Homo sapiens: one gene and its partner. The protein of the gene in region 1 purifies or fractionates together with the protein of each later gene. This does not show direct contact. Each region holds a gene or a part of one and is shown on either strand. Other genes may lie near its edges.

Region 1 (8,170 bases):
GCATGACGTGTGCCCTAGCTCTAATGACCACGCAAAAGGCAAGCTGAGGGGGGCTGGAGCGCGCCCACTGGGTTCCTGGTGAGGGAAGATGTGGCCCCACATGGGAGACCGCTAATGAAGAAGGAGGACTTTGCCTTCACCAAAGAGCTCTCAGTGGGCAGAAAGACAGCAGCTGACTATGGAAATTTGATGTTCATTTACTTTGCTTAAAAAAAAAATAACGGGAAGCCATCCTACACAGGGACCAATGCCCAGATTTTGTTCTGCTGCGTGTCTCTGCTGTTGGATCTGAGGTTGCTTCTTCCAGAGGGGGAGGAGGGGGTTCATGTTCTGACACGTTTGGGGGCAGATTGTGAGGGCTGCATCTTGGGGACCAACACCAAAGCAACAGGTTGCCCCACAGCAGTTTCCCTTGGCCTTGTTTATGAAATGTGAGAAGAAGGATGCATGATGTGGGCTCTGTTTTCTGTAATAAGATACTAGCCACGCTTTGTAAGCATTCACAAGCTGCCTTTAAGAGACTCCTAAATGGTATTTTTTTTTCCTGTGCCACCACATCCAGCTGTGTTTATTTTAATTTATTTTATTTTTTTTTAGAGACAAAGTCTCATTGTATTGTCCAGGCTGGTTTTGAATTCCTGGCCTCAAGTGATCCTCCCACCTTAGCCTCCCAAAACACTGGGATTACAGGCATAAGTCATCATGCCAGGCCAAGAACTCTTAAATTTTGAACATCACTTTGTTAATAATAAACAGTTTTTAGTTGAATTCCACAAATGTGGCAGCTTTTTATAAATTTTCTTTTTCCTTTTTAAAACTTCCATTGCATCCAAGAATATCACTCTTTTACCAGAAGTTCCAGTTGTGTGTGTGGTATTTCTCTTTTTCTCCCCCTGTTGTTTATTCTGTTTTTACTTTCTTCTTCTGGCTTGGCCTAAAACCTGAAAACCTACCCTTTACCAGAATGACTCAGAAAAATCCACAATTTTAGGAAACACTTCTGACATGTCTCAGGTAAAAATTGTGTGTGTGCATGCATGTGTGTATATTTACCTATAGTAAACTAGCTGGCTAGTTCTGTACCACACTGATGTGCCTGCATGTTGCATTATGAATATTTTTATTTGATAAAGAACAAATGGTTAAGAAACCCAGTGGTAGGGCTCTCATGTTATATAAAGCTAAAAACAAAGAAATAAGAAACAATGAAGAATGAAAAAAGAGACAAGCAGGGGTTGTCACATTTTCTCAGTGTAGACAGCGTCTCCTTCTGCCCCTGCCTGGCACCGGCCTTTCCTCTACCACCAAAATCACACACCTTGGAGAACCCCTTCCTTGAGCTCAACATCAATATTTTCCTAGAACCAAGAGAAATTTGAGAGCTAGGTAGGATTTTAGAGACCACGTAGTTCAAGCCTTCATTTTATAGAAGAGAAAACCAAGGATCAGAGTGGGCATCATCCAGATTCACTCAGTACGTGGCAGGCAGACTGGGTCTTATGGAATAGGTCAGCTCTGGTGGTTCTTAATTTTTCAGTCTTGGGCCAGGCACATTAATGCCACCCAAGGTTCGGTTCAAGTCAACAAACAAGTGAAGCAGCAGTTTCTGTGTGCTGGAGTATGCAGAGAGGGCTAGGACTTAGCGATGCGGTGGGCACAGACTATCTTCACGGTCACTTTGAACTAATCTTGGGGTGGGGGTTGAACAACCACAAAGAAAGAGCTCTGCTATCCCCAGTTTCACCCTATGCCCTTGCCAGAAGCAGTTACTCTCTGACAAACAAATGTCTCCCTGTGCCTCAAAGCTGACACATCTACAGCAAGGCTTATGTGTGCTGAAGTTAACATCCCAAGAATATCCTGGAAGCTGCACCTGAAGAGCTTTCCAGCAGAAGTCAAAAAGCACTTTTCATACCCCAGATCACTAGTAAAATGAAGCAGTGCTTAGCATTTTAATACAAGGCAATATCAAGATTTCAGGTCAACTAATATCCTCTATTTTATTACACGAAATAAAATATATTCTATTGCCAGCATGTATTAGAAATTTGTGCAATTGGAGAGACCTGAAGTCTTCAATTTTCCATGCTTCAGCTATTACTTTTAAAAATAATATGAAGTGTTGGATATGGATATAGAAGAAAGCATTTAAACACTCATGGTCTAGCATAATAAAGAGACTTTCAGCATTGACACTTATTTGGTACTTACTATAATCTTTATTTTAGGTAGTTTTTGATTTTAAGTAGCAGGAGATGCCCAGTTTTCTTTAAAGCTGTAATTGGAAACAAAGAAAATGCTGTCAGATATTCCTGTGTCCTGGTTAAAACACTTCCCTCCTTGGAAAACACTACTCCCAGAAGTCTTGATTCCAGACTCCAGAGAGTGCAGCTGCAAGGAAGCTGCCAAATTCGTGGCTTCAGTTGTGACTGACTTGTTCTCCCGATGGGTGCACAAGAACATTCCCTTCAGCATGACAGCACACACAGAGGAGTCCATAAATCCATCACTGGAAAGGGCCATTCCCAGTGGCCCACTTTTTTCTTTTGAGTCTTGTAGACACTCGCCTCGAACTTATTTCAAGAACACAGCCCAAATTATTATTTCAAGAACACAACCTGAAACTCCTAATAGTGTTGATTAACCCAGAATCATTGAGCACATTGGGTGGACACCTCCCTGCAAACCCTCTTCCACATCAGCTCAGGTGCTGCATGCACCTTGCTTCAGAAATCACGAATAAAGGCATGCCTTTGAGCTTCCAGGAAGAAGCCTGTGGCTTTGGTAAATTGCTTTCTAGTCTACCAGAACTCTGATTTTGCTACTTCTGATCAATTCCGGTGATATAAAACATTTTCTTCATTAAGAAAAAGAGCAAAACTTAGAACTGTGAAGACAAGCCCCAAATGATGAATAGTTGGAAATGAATAGAAATAAGGATGAGTACTTACACCACTCTAGCTGGCTTCCTGGCAGCAGAAGGCAGTGGCTGATAAAGATTTGCCCACCTCCACGACAAGGGAGAGTGCTTCTCAGGAGATGGTGCTGGAGGGAGGCACCTAACAGTTATATACTCAGAGCCCCACTCTGCTCTGTGTGTTTGTGGGCTCGGCTTTCTCCTCCCACTTCAGGCATCAATGCCAAAGCAACACCAAGGAACTGGTCCCCTGGCTTCAGTACCCGATGTCTCTCTCTCTGTTCTTGACAGAGTACCAACTGCTTTGCCACAGTTTCCACAGCATTCCAAGGTCTTTGACCAGCAATAATCCTACCAAAATGCATCTTTTTCTTCTCCTGTTTCCTCTGGCCCCTACTCATATTTTTGGAAAGATTTACAACTGAAAAGGATCAACACGGTGTCAAACTAAAAACCATGGGGCAGGTTGCTGCTGTGTGGACTCGGAAGCTAAGCGACTGCTCCTGGGGTGAAATTTTCTTAGACTTGGCACAACTTCTACACAGATGTAAGACTCCAGCAAGGGCCTGAGGGGCTGTTGGGAGGGTGGGGAAGATAAGGTACATGCAAGTTGTTTTCTGAAGGCCAGCTGCCTTTTTCCCAGTGAGGAGAAAACAAAAATATCAGTGTTTCCCTGGAATGTCTGTCTTCCCAGGTGAGAATTCTTGGACATACTCTGCTGCCTCTTTAAAAGTCAGGAAGCAAACATTCTATAGCAGGGAAATCTAAAACTGAATTAAAATATCTCCTCCTTCCCCCTTCTTTTTAAATTTCAATTTTGTGGCTTGTTCTGTTATGGCAAAAATCTAACTCAAATCTACTTTTATGAGTGCAGAATTTTAAAAAAATATATGTGTATATATGTATATGTGTGTATATATGTAACATATATACATCTATATTACATACATACATGTATATATGTAGATATATACATATAATAAATATACATATATACATATATTACATATGTGTAGATATATATGTGTGTATATATGTAATATATATACATATATACATATACTTTTAAATATATATATAATATATATATGTAATCCCACAGCCAGCCATGCAGATGTCATAGGTCTTTTATCTGGGTCTCCTGCCTGCTTGGATGTGCAGATAGTACTTATCAGCCTTCAGCTAGGTGGCCCATGGCTGGGAGCTCTCTGGCTCCACCCGCTGGACACCCGCCAGACCACAGGGTTCTTGCCGGCTTGGGACATCCTTCCTCCAAGTGCCTCCCGAGCAGCTGAGGTAGGGTGTGTATAGGTCTAGGTTCATAATAAGAGTTTCCAGGTTCAGGCAAATCTCCTTCCAACATTTTTTCCCTGGTAAAATAAGGAGAAAATAAGCTCCTCGGGTTTCCCTGAAGGAGAAAAATGAATCTTCAGGAGACAGTGTGAGTGGCCTGCTTTGGGAATGAAAGGAATCATACTAGTGTCTCCATGACTTCCTTATGCAAATGGACCACTGTCCCTGATAGAAATAATCATGCTAATGATGGTAATGAGAATAATAACTGCCACAAATGGTAGAGCATTTGCAAAATTCCTATATTATACTATTGTCCCCATTTTGTAGATGAGCAATCTGAGGCTCAGAGTTTAAATAACTTGCTCAAAGTCTGACTCAAAGTTTGTACTTTTAGCCACTCCAGTGCTGTCCAATATTTCCAACTTCTGCCTGTATGTTTGCTTTTCATTAATTCCTTCACTCAACTTGGCCATGATGCATATTTATGGACCTCATCCTGAAGCTGCCTCCACATGACACCCATGGAGCCTTCTGCCTCAGTCGCACTGGTCAGGGCTGAAGGTGTGTAGTGAATCTCAGACCTCCTTGGAAAAACCACCTCTTTCTGTACCCACCCTCCCTCCCTGGCCTTTCTCCTGGTCCCTGTAAAGCCACACCTTAAGTGGGGGGCCACAAATTACAGCCTTGCCATATTGTATGCACAAGGCAGCACAAGGCACATGGAATTCCAAGTCAGATAAACCTGAGTTTGAATACTAGCTTTTCTCTGACAAGCTGTATGACCTTAGGCATGTTACTCACAGTTTCTGAGCCTCAGATTCCTCAGTGTAAAGTGGGGTAACTTTTCTTCCTTTATAAAGTTGTGATGAGGGATGACATCTTCAAAGCACCGTGCCGAACATGTAGAGGTGCCCCCATTCTGATGTCAGCCCCTCTCAATCAGCACTGGTTTACCTTGGGGGTTTCCAAATGGAACCTTCCTCCTGGCTTGAATAAGGGGACAAACTTCTCCCTGCTTTGACATCAGAAGGGGTGCAGTTATGAGTACAGAGGAAACCATTTGCTTCATTCAAGAACTGTGAACTAGGTAGCTTTCTGATGCAGGGCTTGCCAAATTCTCATACTGCAGGATTCTGAGATGCCAGGGTCCGCTGCCACCCTGTTGCTGTAGACAACTGGGCACTCATTGCGTGCATACATGTGTTCTCGGTGCTTTTAACAGCCTAATTGCACAATACAATGAACTTTTCTCTGTTCTTTCTACAGTAGCTCCTTTATTATTTCCAGAGAGTCATTTGCTGAGTATGCCCTAACATTGCCTTTCCTTGGTCTTTCCCTTGCATCTCCTCTTTGGGTGCCCCTCTCTGTTCCCATACCAAGTGAATGCACCTTCCATCTCTCTGCCTGGAACAATCACAAATGAACCTACATAAAGCTGCTCTCCTCTTCGACTTTCTTCTTGGAGTTTCTGCCCCTAGAATGTTTTCTCTCTCCTCCCCCTCCTCATACTCTGCCCAAATCTATTTGGATTTCGCAGTGGGCTTCTGTGCACTTAAAGCAGTTTACATCTCTATTCCTCACTGGCCATGAAATCATGCCGCCTAGCTCTGCAACAGTTCTGGTACTGTCTTATTTTTTAGAATATATCTTACGATGCACAGTCCCATCTGGGCCGGAAGGTACCGGATGATGAAGTCAGGATCCAATAGCTCTCTCCATTCCTAATGGACCTCTCTTTCCAGAAAGATTTTGAGGCAGTTCATCAAATATACGTAAGAGGACATAAGAACTAGGTGACAAAATGGAGAAAGGAGAATGCAACTATGGATAAAACACAATTTTCATATTTTTTCTACAATACCTTGCATTTGTTGGTATTTCTAAATTTGTGTTGTTTTAATCAGAAATTATAACACTGTTTCATTTGATTGCTGCTTGATATTGATCTACGCATAGGCAGTTTAATGTTATAAATAATTGGCACCTCAAGATTATGTAATTGGGCAGTGCCCTCACTGAGGACTTCTACAAGACATTCTCATGCTTTTCTGTCCCCTCACCCCCCCACGAAGAGAGTGGCAAGGACTGCAAGTCTGGAACAGAATGTTCCTTTGCAGTGAGTTCTGAGCCTACTGAGTTCTTTGGTTTGGTAAACAGTCAGATAAAAAGGTACCAGACGAGAGCCAAAACTCCCAGAACGACACTTGGAGGGGACCCTTTGATGTAGGCATTCCCTAGAGTGAAGCCAAGGATCAAGGCAGCGCAGAGAGTGCAAAAGTCTCACTCAAACCTCCACTGCCTGCCCTTGCTGGGGGAACACAATGACGGGTGATGAAAGGAGGCACTGAGGTCCCTAAGTTTTTAGCTCCCCTTAAATGCAGTCCTGAAATTATTCCATCCATTTTAGGAGTAAACGGGGATCAATAGCTGGGAGCATCCAGAGATGATGTTCCTCCTGCACAAAGCAGAGGGTTCATGTAATCTCCATCCCTACCTACAACTTTCATCAGATGCCCATCTGTCACCTTTCCAGCTTTTAAATTAAAATCAGACCAGTGTAAGGCTCATAATGTAGTCTCTGGTGTCATGGGCCAATGCGTAAGGGTGTGCAGGTTGTGCACTGCACAAATGCACCACGTCTAAGGGGGTCACTATTAATGTCCTAGAAATTTGTGTGTTTATTGCAACAAAGTTCTTGAAGATGGTACTAAAATGTCTTGAGAAAAGGGGTGCTAGTGTGTCTGTGCAAGGAGCCATATTGTCTAGCAATACCTTGAGCTTTTAAAAATTTTCATTTTTATTTTTTTTGAACACCGAGAAGCCAGCTTTTGTTTCTTTTTCTTCTTCTTCTTCTTTTTTTTTTAGACAGAGTCTTGCTCTTTTGCCCAGGCTGGAGTGCAGTGGTGTGATCTCAGCTCACCGCAACCTCCACCTCCTGGGTTCAAGCGATTCTCCTGCTTCAGCCTCCTGAGTAGCTAAGATTACAGGCATGCACCACCATGCCCAGCTAATTTTGTATTTTTAGCAGAGACAGGGTTTCACCATGTTGGCCAGGCTGGTCTCAGACTCCTGACCTCAAGTGATCCATCTGCCTCAGCCTCCCAAAGTGCTGGGATTACAGGCATGAGCCACCACGCCTGGCAAGAAGAAAGGCTTCCCTGACCGGGAATCAAATCCGGGCCATGGTGGTGAGAGCGCCAAATCCCATCCACTACACCACCCGGGGCATCATCCTCCCTCCCAGGCTTGCGCCTTTTGTTTCTTCAAGATTAAAAGAAAAAATCATTTCCCAGTGAGGAACAATAGGGAAAGAGGTAGGAGGAGAATCATCTCAATCTCTTTAGGCTCAGATGAAAAGGAGAGTAAAGTGTTGGAAAAATGAGGGGTGGGGACTGGCATGGCCGCGTTTCCCTAGGCCCCTGCTAAGGATAAACCACATGCATCGGATTGTTCTCTTACTGTAAAAGATGAGGGGATGCTGGCCCCAAGGTTAGGAAGTTGAGCTCGATTTGATAATTGGGCCGGGAAGAGGAGGTGGGACGGCCTGGCATCACCATTGCGAATGGGGCTCGCTGGGCACCCAGATCGATCTGCTGTCTTTTTGTCTGAAGGTTTGCCAAACCAAAACATCCGTGGGCTCAGAACACACTGCAAAGGAATGTTGTATTCCAGACTTGCAGTCCTTGCCATGCTCTTTGTTGAGGGTGAGGGGACAGAGAAGCATGAGAATGTCTTATAGAATTCCTGAGTGTGGGTGCTGCCCAATTACATACTCTTGAGGTGAAAATTATGTGTAACATTAAACTGCCCATGCATAGATCAGGATCTGAGTTACTCACCAGGGGCCTGGCTGGGATGGGGCAGGTGTATTAAAGTGCGACTATTCTCTGGAGCTGGGGAGGTGGCAGCTGGCTCAGGCCCCTTCCTCATCATTTGTCTCAACTGGAGACTGAGTAT
Region 2 (7,342 bases), on another chromosome or scaffold:
TTTACAATAAAGAAAATAAAAGTTTTTTTTACAAAAAAAACTTTGTTTTTCTTTTTCTTTCTTTTACAATAAATCTTCTTAAATATTTATTGGCTTAGAGCCACCATGTAATCGAGAGAAAATTCAGAAGCTAACAAAAGGTGCCGTTTCCCTGAGCAGCATTTCAGTGAAGGTTGGCTCAGTCACAAAAAATAGTTTCAATTTTCAGCAGAAAACAAATTACCTTCAAGGTCTCTCGCTCTTTCTGAGTCTTTTGGTTATACCAAGGTTCATCATTGTATGGGGTACTTTGCCAAACATACTTTAGAGTAGTGCATACTGCAGCTTTGGTCAGTAAGATAAATAAATATACAATCAGGAAAGCATTAATAGATCTGAAAAATAAGATAGCATGGATTTTAAAACCAAAGACATCAGTCAGATATGAATTAAACTACTGAGTCATCTAAAGCTTTTTCTGTGTACGACGCGTAACTACAGCACAAGCCTTTGTGTATTAACCTCAGTTATCATAGCTGCAGCATTACTTTCAAGTGGCAAAATGGAAAAGCTGGCCATGAACTGTTTATTGACCACCAATGCTCCCCCAAGTGCAATGGCTGACTAGCTGAACACACCTTATTAAGGTTCCTGTAAAGTGACAGGAGAGGTACACACATGCACACATACACACACCATTACTTACTCAACCCTTATAGAAAGAGTATCTTGTCTCCATTTCCCTGAATCCTAAATGTTTGGGGTAGAGGGCACGGTAGCAATGTGAAATCCTCAAGCTCGGTGTAGGTTCTTTCAGTTTAAAAGTGGAGCTATGGAAAGGGTGCCAGTGATATACTGGTTATCCATGCCAAATACAGGGTGAGGTCTATAGCAGTGGCAACTGGCTTGAGGATCTACGAGGCACTGCTTCAATAGGTGCCAGGAGACTATTATCTATATTATAGAACCAACTTGCATATAGCAACTAAAGGACTCCAAACCATTAACTCCACTAGCAAAAAGGAATGAATTTACAGTTCAAGTAAACTCTGCCCTTTAATAGCTATGTGAGCTTAGGTAAGTCACATACCATCTCCAAGACCATTTCCTCATCTGTAAAGTGGAGAGGTTAACATGAATTACTTCACAGTGTTCTTCAGAGGACTAAACCAAATCAGACATACAAATCATTGAGCACAGTTTCTGGTACATAAACAAGTGCTTAAAATTGTAGTTGCTATTATAATTGATGTTGTTTTTTGTTATGCTTGTTACTTGGAATTACCAAGAAAGTAACTATTTTAATCAATAATGACTAAATAAATTGTGGCGCATACTAACTTTTCAACAGCAGAACGTTTCTGAGATTTCCCTTGGTAGTTCAAAGCCATTTTGGTTTCCATTCCAGTGTAAACAGCAACTCCTAAGAAATTACAGAATATAATAAAAACTAAGAACTTGTCAACCAACTCCTCACCCAGCTGGCTCTATGAATTTTTAAGTCTATAAAAGTGGGAAATCTAGGCCCTCTTCCACTCACCAGTTGTATATCATTTATAGGATAATTTTAATTATATATAGTATTTGTCATATTTCGTCTTAGTTTACCACGTTATAAATTCCCAACACCTAAATGTAGGTTTAAATTAAATGGCAAACCTGCCATGTTTACTTTTTAATATGCACTATTTATTCACAGCCTTTACAAAGCATATTTTTTGATAGGTGTATCTTAAAAATTGTTCACCATATATCTTCTCGGTATTTTTTAGCGTAGCTCCTTTCAGCAAGAGATTTTCAGGTCCCAAAGACCTAAATAAAAAATGAACACAGCTTATCCAAACAAGCCAATAGCATCAACAACTCTGGGGACAGATTTTGCCCTGACACACACCTATCTCCAAGGGGTTCAGAATGTTATCTGTCTACTTATACCATATGCTTACTCCCCAGGACAAGCTGAAAGGTCCTTCACTCTGAAGTTACTTGAGGGTACAGCACAGATGGAAGCACAGTACGGGAGTAGCCAGCAACACACATAGGCAAAAAAAATACATGGGGGGGGATAAAAGGATTATGAATCATGGATAGCAAGACGAGAACAGAACAGAGCAGCAGATCGCAAGACACAAAAGCAGACAGCCATCAATAAAAGACAGGGAATGCAAACGTCAAGGTGGGAAAAATATACTGACATATTTGGAGAGAATAAACCCTCCTTTTGGGGGATCACTGGGGACCCTGTATTTCTTTAACTTTTTGAGTGTGGCTGTAAAGGCCAAGTGGAAAAGTTGCGGTAATTAATATGATGATAGAAGAGGAAAGAAAGCATCCCTTTTTGTATGAACTGCTTGATAAATTGTATGAAGGCTGATACATACAATTCGTATACATAAAACAATTCGTTTTAATGAAGCCTTTCATTTTACGTAAGTCCAGGTAGTTCTTCCAGCATTTTACCCACTGCTTACTTTCTCAATTACTCTCCCACTGTTCTCCAGTTATAATTCCAATGTTGTCAGCCACTTCACAACCGAGGATAATAAATAACATGGCTAGAACAGGTTTGGGAATATAATCCAAAATGTCTGGAGCTCTGCTATTTTGGAAACCATAAGCATTACTTCTAACAGCCCCCTCCCCACAACACAGAGACCCTATCACCACAACTCTACCAATCACAAGGTTAGTTGCTTATTCACCTTTATATTCCTTTTTTTTTTTTTTTTTTTTTTTTTGAGATGGAGTCTTGCTCTTGTTGCCCAGGGTACAGTGCAATGGCTCAATCTTGGCTCACTGCGACCTTCGCCTCCCGGGTTCAAGAGATTCTCCTGCCTCAGCCTCCTGAGTAGTTGGGATTACAGATGTGTGCCACCACGCCCAGCTAAATTTGTATTTTTAATAGAGATTGGGTTTCACCCCGTTGGCCAGGCTGGCTTCAAACTCCTGACCTCAGGTGATCCACCCACCTCAGCCTCCCAAAGTGCTGGGATTACAGGCGTGAGCTACCGCACCCGGCCTATATTCCTTTCTATAATAGAAAGGTATTTGGCTATTTTAGTTGATTTAACAGAAAAATAGACCCCCCCCCCCAACCAAAGGACAAATTAAAGAAACAGCAAACTTACCTGGCAACAGCCTCAAGACTATTACTGTAGATATTGATTCGCCCAACAAATCTGTAAAAAGAACAAAATTGCAAATGTGTTTTCTACATCCAGGTGAAATCCATGTACCAGAAATATGAGAATGAATGAAAATACAAATAATAAAACAGAGATAGATAAAACTGTGAATGAACTACAAAAGCCTATTATATTTCTGGGGGAAAAAAAGTTATGTTGAATTGATAAGGTGTATAACATTTTCATATAATTTTTAAATAACATGATGGGATTATAGGAGCAGAAACAAAGGTTCTCAATTGATTTTCAAGTTCTGTTTAACATCATGCATGCACACAACACCTCTCTCTTTTATAAGTTTATATAAATAACGTAACTTCTATCTTGGATCATGTGAAGAAAGGTTTCTGGTGCTAAAATACAATTTTCAAAACCGCTAGTTCAGTAGTTCTTACACTTGAGTGTGCATCAGAATCACTGGAGCGCTAATTAAACCACAGATTTCTAGGTCCCATCCCTGAGCTTCTGATTCAGGTTCCCCAGTAATGCTGCTGCTGCTGGTCCTGAAACCACTCTTTAAACCATAGTACTAGTCTTAGACAGTGAACACTTGAATGCCATCTTGGAAATGTCCAGCCTGTGACTTGTAGTTGATCTCAATACTGAGCTTGACCCAATCACTTAATATAATAGGTGTATGGTAACCTGTATTTCTGCAAAATAAGGTAAAAATACCTAATCCCTCGTTAACATCAGTGTTTTATAATCTGCATCGTAAACAGCATTTTCCCCAGAAAATAGAAATATATATTACTCATATACACAAAATATGAAGGCTTGCTCATTCATTCATCATATATTAATTGTGCCAGTGCTATACTAAGTGCTGAAGATGTACTAATAAGCAAAAAAGAAATGGCTCCTTGCCCTATAAAAGTAAATAGGCAATTACGACGCAAGTGCTTACCACTAGAGTGATAGAAGTACAAGGTATTCCGAAGTCACACAGCAAGGAATTCAATCGTCTAAGGAAATAAGGAATAACCTTCCCTGTCCTATCATTCTCCTTCATACTTAAAGCAACTGAAAAATGTGGGGATTTCCCTATAAATATGCAAGGGTATAGATATTGTTCTCTAGCTCAGGCAGAATAAGTTACTCCCTTTTCTGTGATTCCATAGACCTTACACTCACCTCTATTATCACCTTGTATAAGCTTAGCTTTATTACTTCATCTCTTGCTCACAGTGAGTCCCTTGAAGGTAGAGAATAACTGTTACACTTTTTGGCCCTAGTTCCTATCATCAAGGTGGATACGGAAGAGGAAGGGAAAGAGGAAAGAAAAAGTGATGAGAAGGAGGGAGGTCATTGTTCTTGAAGTAGAATGAATACTTTGTTTTTCCACTACTAGGTGTTAGTGTAAACCACATCCAACCACTTGGTCACTCATTATGACTAACAGCATGCATTAACAAGATGGGTAATGGATGCCATCTGCAACGGTAGAATAGGATAAAATTAATTAGCCCACGTGGGGATAAAACCTGTTACACTACCCTGATTAGTACTATGCTCTAATCAACCCAACTAACCAGTCTTGAAATCAAACGCCAATTTTTGACAACCCACAATGACTAATAATCAGCAAACCTACTCCAGAGAGCCTAAGTATAGTAAAATAGAGGAAATTACACCATTGTACTCATCCCTTAACTGTTTACTGTGGACAAGAAAGAGCCTATTTGCAATCTTTAGTGCATCATGATCATTCTAAGAAAGGATAGAACCTACTAATTGCATGAAGAGGATATCCCCCTTCTCTCTTTAATGTTAGATGGCATGTAAAAGGATTTGTTTTTTATTTAATTAACTGGTTACTGCATCAGTCTGATAGATCAGCCTTACAGGGTAACATAATCTAAAATTTTGATATATGGCCATGTTTACAAGTAATAAAAATAAAAGAAAAATCATAAGATACCTGGGCCCACAATGATTTATTCTGGGTTGATAGTGAACAAGGCTGATTTGATTCATTTTTCTGCCAGAAGGAAGGAATCGCCCATAAAAACACAAATGAGAGTAGGCTGGTAAGTGGTGGGTGTTTCTTTTGCAATACTATTAGCAAAGAGAAGCAGAGCCAACAAACAGAAGTAAAATGAAACCAGGTGATTCTTACTTGTAGAGGTCAGGTTGAGGCTGTTCACATTCAATTGCTGCTCGGAGGGTATCGATGGATTCTGCTGTACACAGTGCAATGGTATCACGTACTGCATAATGTGTCTAGTTGAAAGCAGAAGAAAAAGTGAAAACCAAAAAAACTTTCTTTTCATAATCATACACCCAACTGATTTCAGAAACAAATTTAGTTTATGTTTTAGTAAGAGGCTTTGGCAGAATAAACAAATATTAACATTTCCCACTAATAAGTTTTATGGTATTATTATGAAAATATATTACAAATAATTAGAAAGATAACCTGCCGCAAGGAGGGTTTCAAAGACAATTAAAAACCTAAAAGCTCTTCTTGACATGGACAGCTGAGAGAATTCTATTCACAACATGCATATAATTAACTAAAACCACGTGAAAAAGTTAATACATTTATTTTTTTTCCTATTTACAGAACTGAGACTTATTATTTTGCTCACTATAGTGTATGGCAATGGAGATATACACATATGAATTGAACATAACCTTTTTGGTCACAAAAATGCTAAAATTTTGCCAACAGCAAGAAAAAAATCATTAATAGTTCCATTACACAAATAGCTTAATTAATGATCTTGAAAATGTTCAATATGGATACATTTTGTACAAGGGGCAGGGAGATGACGTGTCTTGCATTAGTCAGATAATTAGAATATTCTACTAGTGTATATTATGCACTTGATTCATCCAGAACTCAAGGCAGGCGCCAATGAACCCACTTATAAATCATCAAACAAGGGTTAAAGCAGACTCAAAGAGCGCACCACTTAGGCAGAAGGGAAAGCTGTTGTCGTCATCTTGGGGGAAATATTACGGCAATGTCTGAACTATATTTAAAACTATCTCCTGATTTTGAAAACCTCTGTACTTTTAGCTGATTTGATCAGAACAACTTAACTGAAAAAAGAAACTATCTGAAAGTTTTCTTACTCCAAACAACTTTTTCACTATCAGGAAATCTTTATGTAGATTTCTTGATTTATATCTTGACATTCCCTAAATTATAACTTTGTTTTTGAAAAGGTTAAAAGCAGGTCATTACCATGCTTTTGAAATACAGAATTAGTCATCCAACAGGTAAAGGTTCTTTTTTACATACTGAGTCGTAGTCCTCAACTCCAGATGGAATAAACAAACAGAGGAGCCCTCCAAGGACATACCCAGAGGTGAGCCACATGAGTAACCCTCCTTAAAGGCAGCATAGAGAGGATACATCTTCATGCCCTGTGGAGCTCTGGACCATGGCCAAGAAAACCGACTGTGCCAGAAAGTGTATGAGGGAAATAAGTTACCCCCATTTGGCCAAATTTACTTTAAGTCACTTGCAATTATAAATGAGTTATAATTTGTTATATGTACATAAAATGTTGCTTTATAACTTACTTATAAAGCAAACATTTTCCAAACTACACCCTATCTTTTTTTTTTTTTTTTTTTTTTTTTTTTTTTGAGATGGAGACTCACCCTGTCACCTAGGCTGGAGTGCAGTGGCGTGATCTTGGCTCACTGCAACCTCCATCTCCCGGGCTCAAGCAATTCTATTGCCTCAGCCTCCCGAGTAGCTGGAATTACAGGCGCCCACCACTATGCCCGGCTAATTTTTTTGTATTTTTAGTAGAGACAGGGTTTCACCATGTTGGCCAGGCTGGTTTCGAACTGCTGAACTCAAATGATCCGTCTACCTCAGCCTCCCAAAGTGCTAGGATTACAGGCGTGAGCCACCGCACCCAGCCCTAAGTATTATTTTTAAATAGCAATCAAATTACTCCAGGTTGGGTTTCCTACATCCCAAGAATATACATTTTTAATGAAAATATACATTTTAGAAAAAAATAGATCAAATTGTAAGGTTAGCATACATGAAGTTATTTGTATAGTCACACAGTTTAAGCCTATGATTACTCCCATTTTAGAGTCTAAATATTAAATAGGCTGTGTCAATATTAAATTCAAGCAGTGCTATAAAAATTGTGGTAGCTTTTACTTGGGGCTCAGTTTTTCCACACGTAATTACCACCCTTTTACCC

What was found.
Region 2: the proteins of SLC14A1 (region 1) and ATP11C purify together in Homo sapiens (affinity purification with mass spectrometry; 2 studies listed by BioGRID and IntAct, with this or other methods). This does not show direct contact.

What each region holds. Positions count from the first base shown.
Region 1 is NC_000018.10:45,719,055-45,727,224, reverse strand, and holds the start of SLC14A1 (urea transporter 1), read right to left. Parts: upstream 3,045-8,170; 5' UTR 2,952-3,044; intron 2,276-2,951; 5' UTR 2,212-2,275; intron 273-2,211; exon of another isoform or gene 1-272. UniProt on the Homo sapiens protein: Mediates the transport of urea driven by a concentration gradient across the cell membrane of erythrocytes.
Region 2 is NC_000023.11:139,796,953-139,804,294, forward strand, and holds part of ATP11C (phospholipid-transporting ATPase IG), read right to left. Parts: intron 5,388-7,342; coding exon 5,284-5,387; intron 3,159-5,283; coding exon 3,108-3,158; intron 1,792-3,107; coding exon 1,727-1,791; intron 1,403-1,726; coding exon 1,321-1,402; intron 375-1,320; coding exon 224-374; intron 1-223. UniProt on the Homo sapiens protein: Catalytic component of a P4-ATPase flippase complex which catalyzes the hydrolysis of ATP coupled to the transport of aminophospholipids, phosphatidylserines (PS) and phosphatidylethanolamines (PE), from the outer to the inner leaflet of the plasma membrane.